Regions from separate parts of the Homo sapiens genome. Here region 2 is linked to region 1. Evidence: fine-mapped expression QTL. A gene starts in region 1. The other region holds a variant in brackets. All regions are shown on one strand. Distances are from middle to middle. Region 1 holds the start of PRXL2A (peroxiredoxin like 2A). Region 2 has its middle 7.0 kb from the start of TSPAN14.

Region 1 (5,372 bases):
TTTTTGGTTTTAGTCCTTGAGCTTTGTAAATAAGTTTTCCTGCGCCTGCTTGCCTGTAACTTATTTTTCTGGTCTAATGACTGTTTTTTAATGAGTTCAGCCTGTGCTTTCTTGTACAAAAAGAAACGTGGGCATGTGAGGAGCATATTAATTAGCTATCAGATGTAGCCTGGTTTTTGAAGTCCAGATCTTCAGGATGTTACCGAAGTGTAAATATAAGCATGACTTTTGCACGTGATTAGTAATTACATCACAGTTAAAGCCTCAGGGGACCTTCCACCCCAGAATTCTGCTATCCTCAACCCCTGAATGGCTCTGTCATTAATGGTCAGTCTCCAAGAACTCATTTCCCAAGGAAATGACTTCCTGTTTTGTTCTAAGTGGCCTTCCCTGCAAACCCTCCTCACCTTTGAACTTCCTATTTTGGGATGGAAAGATTGACCCTTCTCCCGCTCCTCTTCACAAGGTAAGGAGAAACAAGGGAGAAGAAAGAAAGGTCCTCTGGAGAGAGATATATGTATCATACATATCTTATACATATATCATATATATCTTATATATCTCATATATATCTTATATATATCTTATATATCATATATATATATATATATATATATATATATATAAAACTACACCCGCATTGCACCAAAGTATACGAAATATTTTCTGGCCTTCAAATCATATGCCTAACTCCTGCAGGAAAACTGCATGGGCACTCAGGCTGATCTCCCTTACCCCACAACTTAGATCCACCTCTCACGTTTTCTAAGTTTATTTCCACGCTGTCCCTGGGCCAGGCTCTAGGGTCCCAGAGGTGAAGTGGAGGAATTCACAGTTTGGTTGAGGAGAGACCCCCTTGAATAGATCAAGCTCCCCAAGTGTTGCTGTAAGTTTACATGGAACATGGAGTCTGAGTGGGAAGTCAGGGAGGTGAATCACGGAAGCCTTTGGACTTTGTACACCTGTGGGCAGCTCCCAGATGAAGGGGGGAAGGTGTTGCAGGCAAATGACCACCTTTGACGGGCGGACATCGGCCTGCTTTGCCACTTCACCTTATGCTGCCCTGTGACTGGTCTTTGCACTGTGTCACCGATATGTCTTTTTTTTTTTTTTTTGAGACGGAATCTCACTCTGTCACCCAGGCTGGAGTGTAGTGGCACCATCTCGGCTCACTGCAACCTCCACCTCCGGGGTTCAAGCTATTCTCCTGCCTCAGCCTCTTGAGTAGCTGGGACTACGGGTGCGCGCCACCACACCCGGCTAATTTTTGTATTTTTAGTAGAGACGAGGTTTTGCCATGTTGGTCAGGCTGGTCTCGAACTCCTGCCCTCAAGTGATCTGCCCGCCTTGGCTTCCCAAAGTGTTGGGATTACAGGCATGAGACACCGAGCCCGGCCAACCACTAATATGTATCGTGAGTCAGCTCTGCTGTCTCTGAAAGTCCAACCTCCTACTTTTTGTTTTTTGTTGTTAAGACAGGGTCTTTTTTTTGTTTTTTAAAGACAGGCTGGAGTGCAGTGGCGCGATCTGGGCTCACTGCAACCTCCGCCTCCCGGGTTCAAGCGATCCTCCCACCTCAGCTCCAGAGTAGCTGGAAATACAGGCACGCGCCACTATGCCTGGCTAGTTTTTGTTTTTTACGTAGAGATGGAGTCTTACTATGGTGCCCAGACTGGTCTTGAACTCCTGGGCTCAAGCGATCCTCCCAAAGCCCTGAGATTACAGGCGTGAGCCAGCGCGCCGGACACAACCTCCTACTTTCATGAAAGAGTGGGCACTTCCAACAGGAGGAGTAAGTGGATGAGCGGTGTGTGACACACCCGCCTCAGCGTCGCCCGGAGTCCGCAAGGCTGCGGCTCACCGTTCTCTGCCCCATAGCTGGCATTGTGGAGTGAAAGGGAACGTGGGTGGAGGATTGAGGTTGGAAATTCTGAATCTGTACATACAGCTTGAAGGGGCTCATCGAATGTGTCGGTCCTTTAGATTCCCCCTGCCCATGGAGGTTAAAAAAAAAAAAAAAACCTATCAAAAGAGCTATTCAAAACCAGGCTGAAGATTGGAAGGAAGTTGGCCAGCCTCGGCTGCAGGACAGGTGCTTCCAGGCTCCATTAGGGGTGTCCAGCGCCTTCTTTTGCCCTAGGCAGCGCCCTGAAGAACGCGTCGGGGCCTCGGTTCGCGGACTTGAGGAGTGGACCGACCGAGCGCTGTGCGTAAAAGGACCGCTGGGGCACACGCCCGAGCGCCACCGGAGCTAGGAGACCGCGGCCCGGAGGTCGGCGAGTCGGGGGCAGGCCCGGAGCTCCTCCCACGGGGGGCGGGGCGGGTCACATGGCGGTGGCGCGGTAGCGCGCGATGCAGCACAGGCTAGAGGCTGCGCAAGCGCGGGGCCCGCCCCTGGGACCCTCCGGGCCGGGCGGTTTGGCCCCTTAGCGCCCGGGCGTCGGGGCGGTAAAAGGCCGGCAGAAGGGAGGCACTTGAGGTAGGTGCTGCGCGCCGGGGCTCCGCGAGGCACGTGATGTCCGTAGGCGGGGCCTGCCGCGGCGTAGGTGGGGAAACTGAGGCAGTGCAGGGCCGGTAGGGTGGGTGCTGGGCTGGTGAGGCGCGCCCCTCGGGCCCGCGCCAACTTTCTTAGGAGCCGCCGCAGCGCTGGCGCTCCCTCCGAGGACGACGACCCTTCCGCCACCCTGCGTGGCGGCCGATGGAAAAACCCTGCGCCCAGACGTCGGAGAACGGAGACGGGGACCCGGCGCTGCTGCGGCGGGCTAGGGCCCCCTCTGTCCACGCCCGCAAGCCTTGAGTGACGCCGGTGGCGCCAACCTTCGCGAATTGTTGGGACAAAGAACAGAGGAGAGGGCCCTGCCCTGGAGCATGGGCCCGGGGGCCGCCCTGCTGGACCAGCCCCAGGTGCGGACCTGGCAGTCCTCGTCCTCGTCTCTGTGCCCGCTTAGGGTCGTGTCTTTTAAGAGGGCACGGTTTCTAGCGTTGTTCAGCGTTTCGGAGGCACCTGTTCCCCCTCTTTCCCAAGAGTCACAAACGCCTGACTTTAAATTGGGTAGAGCCCAGTTGTAAACTTAACAGCCCTGCTGAGGTCTAGGAATGAAAAGATGAACAATCTGCCCCCAGGGTTGTTGCTGGAGCGGGAGGTGAAGGCGCAGGTGGAGATGGTTAGAGGCAAAGGAAGGGAAGTCAAGGCCCAGCCGGTCCAGGGCTGTGGGAAGGAGGCACACCCGGGAGTCCACTGCCGGACCGGGGTTCCCAGCTGCTCCTGCGCCTCTTTTCCTTGCCACATCATGCTGTCTGCACAGCCCAGCAACCCAGAACTCAGCTTTTTTGTTTGTTTTATTTTAATGTATTTTCCTTTGAACCTGGCAGGTGGTTTTTCAAAAAGAAAATAATCAAGATTTGTTTTGAAAAGCATTGTGAAAAAGTCAGCTTGAATAGTCTTGAATGCTCCTGCTCGGGCCCAGCTTTGGAGAATGAGGATTGGGATTTCCACTGCAGACCCCGACTCGTTACCATACTCATTCATCAGAAAACTCTTCATTTTGTGTACAAATAACGTTTTGAGGGTAATCATTGCTCTAGAAATGAAGAATTATACATCGTATTTATTGCACTTTTTGTAAGGTACCTCACAAGGCACCTCCTATACATTTAATCCTTTGATTCTTGCAACTCTGTAGAAGGTAATTAAGGAAGCATTCCCATTTTACTGATGCAAAACAGTTCCTTGTCCAGGTTTATACAGCTTGCAAGAATTAAAGTTAGATATTATTCTTGGTGTGGGCCTTTCCTATATCCCCGTCTTTTATAAGAGCATGTCATTTAGTTGAGACCTTCTGCATTACTTCTGAAGGGGTACAAAAGACATTTCTGATGATTTTCTCATCTCGTGTCATTTAAATGGTGCTCAGAAAGTTTGGATAGGACTGGAACTCTAGGGCTCAAGCCCCAGGCTCTGTCCCTATCTAAGCAATAGGGCAGCTGTCCTGCCAGTTGGGTTCTTGCTTCTTTGTGAAATGTTGAGCAGAAGCTCCAAGTCTCTCTGCTGTGGCTTGTGTGGCAAGAACCATCCTGAGGTTCTGTGCAGAGAGCCAGCCTCACCTTTGAGCTCAGTGGCCTCTGGCACAGGGAAATTACAGCTGGGCAGTGTCCTTTGCCTTCTCTGGCACTGCTAGTGCAGGAGGCAGTGTTAGCTGCTACAGGAATAGCATGGAGCGGGCCTGCAGGCCAGAGGGGCTGAGACAAGCCAGTGTTCCCACCAGACCTAGAACGTTCACCAGAAAGCAGGCCTGCAGTGACACAGCTGCAGAAGTTCACTATTTTGTGCCTGTCCTGCTTCAGATATCCTGTCTTTATAGGGGCACGAGTGAATCTGAGCCCTGCAAAAGAGAGAAAGATAATGCTGCTTTGCCGTTTTCTAGTGCGTTACCGCATTAAAAATTGCTCTTCTTATATAATCTTTATGACAACTCTTTAAAGTGCCCTTGTTTTTAAGAAGACACTGAGGTTCAGAGGGATAAAATAACTCTCAGAGTCAAAGAGAGAAAACCCAGGATTATTGGCTTTTAGCCCAGTGTCTTCTGTGGTATTGCCTTGCCTTCCTATCCACACCCATATAACTTGATGAAGCCGGAGTTCTGAGCCCAGACAGGAGGCTGTGCAAGTGAGATTAGAATGGCTTGCTCTTTGAGGGGTGGGGGGCCCTACAGCTTGAGGAAACAAGAGGACATAATCAGCTACTGGGAAACCCTGAGATACGCCCAAGAGTGAGGAATGTGGGGGCTGGTGCTGCTTTCAGCATCTATTCAGAGGTTTCTGAATCTGGCATTTGAGAGTAGGACTGGGCCAGAACCAGGCAGATACACACCCCAAGGAGCAGGGCTGAGAGTTGGAGACTGAGGCAGGTAGGTGAGAGCTCATTGCAAGTGACTGATTTTGTGGTATATGAAGACAAGGGTGGGTGGAAGGGCATCTGTTGCTCATAAGGCTCTGTGTGCCTGCATCATCAGTATGCTAGACAAGGATGGACAGAGTCTTGTTATTGTGGGGAAGAGAGGTGCAGAATGGCTTCTCAGCGGAGACTAGGCAATGAGACCCTTAAGACATTTGGCTTCAGATTATAAGCTGCTTACCAAGGATTGGGCTTGGGAGAGGCTGATGATGTTCTCTCCAGGCAGCAGATTTCCCAGGCCCTGTTTACGGGCAGTCTTGCTCTTAGCTTGCCTGAGGCCAGTGAACAGGCTTCAAGACCTGCAGGGCCCCACTTCCTGAGCCCAGACTGCCATGCTATTCCAGCCTTAGAGGCCACTGGCCCTTGGCTGGCTGCCCAGGACCTAGCGTGTCTGATGCAGGATAAACAGTCATGGACT
Region 2 (5,372 bases), 38 kb after region 1:
TAGATGTTCCCAGCATCTGGGAAAAGTAGCATTTGTAGGAAATGGGGAGCAGGATCTGCAAAGAGACTGAGGAGGAGCTGCGTGCAGGACACGTGGTCCCGAGTGGGTAGAGGAAGAGAGCCAAGGGCTCCAGGAAAGAGAGAATCAGCAGTGCCAGACAAGGACTGAAAAGCCCTCCCTTCCTCCCCCAACACACAGAAAGACAGACTGACACACACGCACACACACACACACACCCGTGGTTTAATAAACTTGGAGTTTCCTCAGACTGCCTCTAGGTGGCAGTGTATGCACGCGGCATCAACTGCTGCGCAGCTCTCCCCGGGGACTACCAGATTCTCCATGGAACCAACTAAAACTCCCCAAAGCTGTGTGACAGGGACAGGGAGAGGTACCTGTGATGTTTGCAACATCCATCTGTTTTCTGCTCTGTCTCAGATGAGTCTAGGTGTGCCTCTCTCCCCTACTTTGTAGTGGTAGGGGGAACTTTCAGTGGCTCTCCTAGCAGTGTCTGCGCCTAGAGGTCCCAGGGCCTTAGCCGACCCTCAAATCTCTAGGTGTGAGATTGAGACAGACTGGGGACTCAGGTGTGGTCATAAAGCTGACAGTCCTGCTTCTACCACTTATCAGCTAGGTGATTCCCTCTGAGCCCCCTTTCCACATTTATGTTACTAAGTCAGAGCTTTGTGAAGGTCAGTTTGCATGACATTATTCCAGAAGTAACACTCTGTGCTGTCAAGTGGCTTTGACATCTGCACAGATCCCATAGTTCCCTGGGTAGACATGAGCAGCTCTCCGGCCTGAGTGGACCTAGCTTTCAGGGGCAGAGTTGGGACTTAGCCCGTGCAGTCCGATTCCTGGTATTATACTTGCTCTTAACATCTAGGATCTGCTCCCTCCCTTGATGTCTTATTTGGCCACATCTGGGGTTTTCTTCTTTGGCAAAACTTTCTTCTCCCATGTGGAGTCATTACAGTGTGGTTGATGCACAGGGCTGAAAGGGCCGTGGGATGTCACCTGTTGAACAACCTTTCTTTCTCTGCCACCTTCAGTTTATGAAATGGAACAACTGAGGGCAGAGAGATGACAGGACTCCTTGTCACCACCATCTGCTTAGACAGTCTCAGATGCTATAATTAAAGGGTGTTCCACTGTGTCTTATCCTCACACATGGGCTCCTATCACAAATCTTAGTCCTAATTCTTTGCAGGGGACGCCACTGGCAGGCAGAGGTCCCATGGCTGAGGCTGTAGATGCAAATAAGAGTAGAAACCTCCTAGAAGTTTGCAGATTCCTTAAAATAGATTGTTCTGGAACAAATAGGCCAAGTATAGAATGACAGGCCAAGAAATAAATTTCCTTTCTGTTCTCTTTTCCCCAAGGCTCCCTAACCTCTTTCTTCAAGAAAGGCAACACCAGTGCAAAACTGACCTTGAAGTAAAAGTTCTACCAAAGATGTTGGCGCCTAACCCATTGCCATTGCCTGCACTCCAAGTCCTGCCATATACTGATGGAGTGACCCATCTTCCCACTAGCCTCTTGGTCCTGACCTCCTCACCCTCAGGGCCATTTGTTTCTCCGTTTCTTCCATCTCAATCACCTGGTCCCATGGATACACACCTCTGTCTGACCACAGCCTTGTGTCACCGTATCTCCCTTCTTCACATGCTGAGGGCCCTCCAGCCGCAGCCTCATCTTCTTTCCCCCTATCTACTAGCCCCTCCAGCTGTCACTTCTCTCCCCTAGTAGCCAAGCCTCAGGATACAACACCTCAACTGCTTTATTTCCAACCTTCTGGAATCCTTTGCACCATTGTTTTTCTATCATGCTCTCCCGGCAAACCCCAGATTTTGATCAATCCTGCTGTCTGTGCTCTCTGCACTTGCACATACTCCAGCTGCTGAGTACTGATGAAAAAGGTCATGTAATCTGAGATGTGTGTCACTCTCACTCTGGGTCTCCATTTGCAGCTGGGCTTGCAACCCTTCCCCAAACATTCCTGCTTGCCCCTGCTCAGAGGTGTCTCTCGTTCTCTCCTAGGTTTCTCTGAAATCCTTGGATCCCACCCAACACCCACTTAACCTTCAGCAGGTGCCCATTCTACTTCCAGAGAAAGTGGACCCCTTCCCTTAGGAAGCCCCACCGAACCCACAAACATCTGCATCCTCACCCAGCTTGTCTTCCTGCCTCCTGTCTCTATGAAGGTCCTGCTGTCCTCCAGTTTGGGGCTCTCCTCTTGTTCTGAACACCAATCCTTCCCACCTTCTCCAGCAAGCGTTTTCTCTCTTCCTTCAGACTCTCTTATCTCCCCTCTTCTCTTGCCTTCTCCCTTCATCATTTAAACATATTTGAGTCTCTCCTTTGTTTTTCTTGTTATTTTCTTTTAATAGAAACAGGGTTTCACTATGTTGCCCAGGCTCACCTGGAACTCCTGGGCTGAAGCGATTCTCCCACCTGGGCCTCCCAAAGTGCTGGTATTACAAGCATGAGCCATCGTGCCTGGCCCAAGTCTCTCCTTTCTTAAACAAACACCCTCCTGCAACTGCTTATCCTCATCATCTTCCAGTTAACAACCTCTCTCTCATTTTCCAATTGCTGTTCAGCCCACTGTTAACTGTCTTTGACCCAATTCTCCACTGAAACAGTTCTCTGAAGCTATTAACCCCATGGTTGCTCTTCAGCCTTGTTTCACTGGCCCTCTGCAGCCCTGGAAACTGGACCACTCCCCTCTTCTTGAAACACTTGTTGCCCCTGGACTTCCATCCATTCCACCCTCTTGGCTTTTCTCCTACCTCACTGGACAGTCTTCCTCAGTCTCTTTGGTCCCTCTGCTCTCTCGTTTTCCAAAGATTCTGTCCTTGGTCCTTTTCTCATCTCCCAGTCCCAAAATAATCTCCTCTACTCTGATGATTTCAATTATCACACACTGCTTCCTCAATATCGATTCTCCCTTCTTTCTTTAAAACAGGAGTTAATTTTTTAAACATTTCCCAACCTCCTTTGGAGTTAGGGTTTGTCATGTGACTGCACTCGGCGAGTGAGGCATAAGCAGTAGTCTGGGGATTTCTGGGTAAGTTTTAGGTGTTGCCCCTTCATTCTTTTTGCTCTTTCTTCTGTCTGGAATGTGGGTGGGAAGCTGGAGCTGGGGCAGCCATTGTATGACCACAAGCCAACTCTGTCCC[C/G]TAAGGAGAGCCAGACACACCAACAGAGAGGAGCTGGGACCTGATGACGTTGTGGGGCTGCTGATCAGCCTTGCTCTGCTTACCTTTAGACTTCTTGTTGTGTCAGAATTTTTTCCTACAACTACAGCGAGAAAGCTGAATGTAGTTAAGGCAATGTAGTTGTGTTGCTATTTTCTCTCCCCTCCCTCCCTCCATCCTTTCCTTCCTTCCCTCCTCCCTCCCTCTTTTCCCTCCTTTCCCTCTTTCTCTTTCTCCTCTCTCTCTGTTTTCTTTTTTTTTTTTTTTTCCTAAAGAGATGGGGTCTTACTATGTTGCACAGATTAGTCTCAAACTCCTGGGCTCGAGTGATCCTCCTGCCTCAGCCTTTCAAAGTGTTGGGATTACAGATGTGAGCCACCGCACCTGGCCTTGGGTTATTGTTAGAAAAGCTAAACACAATTTCAAATGGATACAACTTCCAAACTGATAACTTCTGTTTAGCTGTCTCTCTTAACTCCATACAGCAAATTGCACCTCTCCACCCTACCCAGGAACACTTCAAATGGAAGAGGTCTAAGGCATCACCTCTCACCAAACATATTATACATCCACACAGGGTCTCTTGTGTTCCTTCTCAGTGAATAGCGCCACTGCCCACGCAGCCAGAATATGATGTCTCTTTATTCCTCATTCTCCCATGCAATTAGTCACTTGTCAGTTCCAGCTCCTAAATATATCTTGATTCTGTCCACCTCTTTCTATTTCCTCATCATTTCTTTTCTAACCATTTTTTATTCCAATCTTGCTCCCTCCCACCTTCCCTTCCCACTCCAGCCTTAGGGATCTTTCTAAAGTACAGATATAACAATGTCACCATTCTGCCTAAAACCTGCCCAGGGCCTAAAGAATACTTGGTATAGAAGACTGCTAAAAATGATGATGTTGGCCCTGCACACACCACTACCCCTTCTTCTGCATAGGCCTTGCCCTACTGATCATAGGCATGGGCATGTGACCCAGACCTAGTCCAATTACGATATCTCATCTCCCTCATCACGCTGGTTGTGTCAGAGTTTGTTTGGCTCTCTCAAGCCACTCCATGTTGCTGTAAGAATGGGTCCAGGAGTGAATATGTGACCAGAGCTGACCCAATTAGGATCCTTTTCTTTTCTTTTTTCTTTTTTTTTTTGAGATGGAGTCTTCCTCTGTCGCCCAGGCTGGAGTGCAATGGCACAATCTCAGCTCACTGCAACCTCCATCTCCCCTGTTCAAGCACGATTCTCTCACCTCTGCCTCCTGAGTAGCTGGAACTACAGGCATGCGCCACCACACCCAGCTAATTTTCCTACTTTTAGTACAGACGAGGTTTCACCACGTTGGCCAGGCTGGTCCGAAACTCCTGACCTCAAGTGATCCGCCCGCCTTGGCCTCCCAAAGTGCTGGGATTACAGGCATGAGCCACTATGCCCGGTCGATCCTTTCTTGAGATTTGTTCATACCGACTTAAGAGTGTAGACTTACTCAGTCACATACCTGACATGGCAAACTCTGAGAACTAGGAGAAACAGAGGGTAGGGCCCCCGTTCTGGGACGTTGTCAGGATCAGCCCCGTTTTGTGTCACTCTGGTTTCAAGTTCTTCTTTCAATTCTGTGAGCAATCTGAGGCTCCTTCCAGTATCTCCCCTTTGATGACCTAAGCTAGTCTGAGTGGGGTTCTCATTTCCAGCCAAAATGTCCCGACTAATCCTTGGTAGTCTGGTCCTAATAAGACATCTTTCCTGGGTAACAGAGTTCTTTACAGCTTACCCAGTATTTTTCGAAGTTTTACAAACTTTATCTCTTTGGATTTTTATTACAAGCTTGTGAGGTGGGTTTTAGTATTACCTTGACTTTACAGATAAGAACAGCAGGGCTCAGGAATGTAAAGTGGTTTGCTCAAGATCATGTTGAGAACTAGGAGAGCTTGGACACCAACTCCCTCTTCTGTTCAATCTCACCCTGACCTGCCCATTGCCCTGTAAACACACACAGAGGCTGCAGAGTGGAGCCCAGGGTGGGAGTGCAGCACTGGGGACCGACACAGAGGGCTATAGAAGTCAGGGGAAGACAAAGGGCAAGCTCTTCCACTTACAATTTTATCTGTGGCAGCTTCAGGTCCAGGAAAAAGATAAGAAACTCTCAGCTTTTTTCTTTTCCTCCTTCCTATACTGT

The links.
Region 2: its variant is fine-mapped to the expression of PRXL2A in monocytes after interferon gamma (Fairfax 2014, PIP 0.93).

Annotation. Positions count from the first base shown.
Region 1 is chr10:80,406,165-80,411,536 of GRCh38, forward strand. It overlaps PRXL2A (peroxiredoxin like 2A), which reads left to right and starts at 2,387. Exons shown (of 6, transcript NM_032333.5): 1 at 2,387-2,479. RefSeq lists a silencer at 2,166-2,455 and enhancers at 2,741-3,334, 4,181-4,680.
Region 2 is chr10:80,444,586-80,449,957 of GRCh38, forward strand. No RefSeq gene overlaps it. Among named protein-coding and RNA genes, the nearest start is that of TSPAN14, 7.0 kb to the right of the region's middle. RefSeq lists a silencer at 5,008-5,302. The variant C/G (reference allele first, on the strand shown) is at 3,183.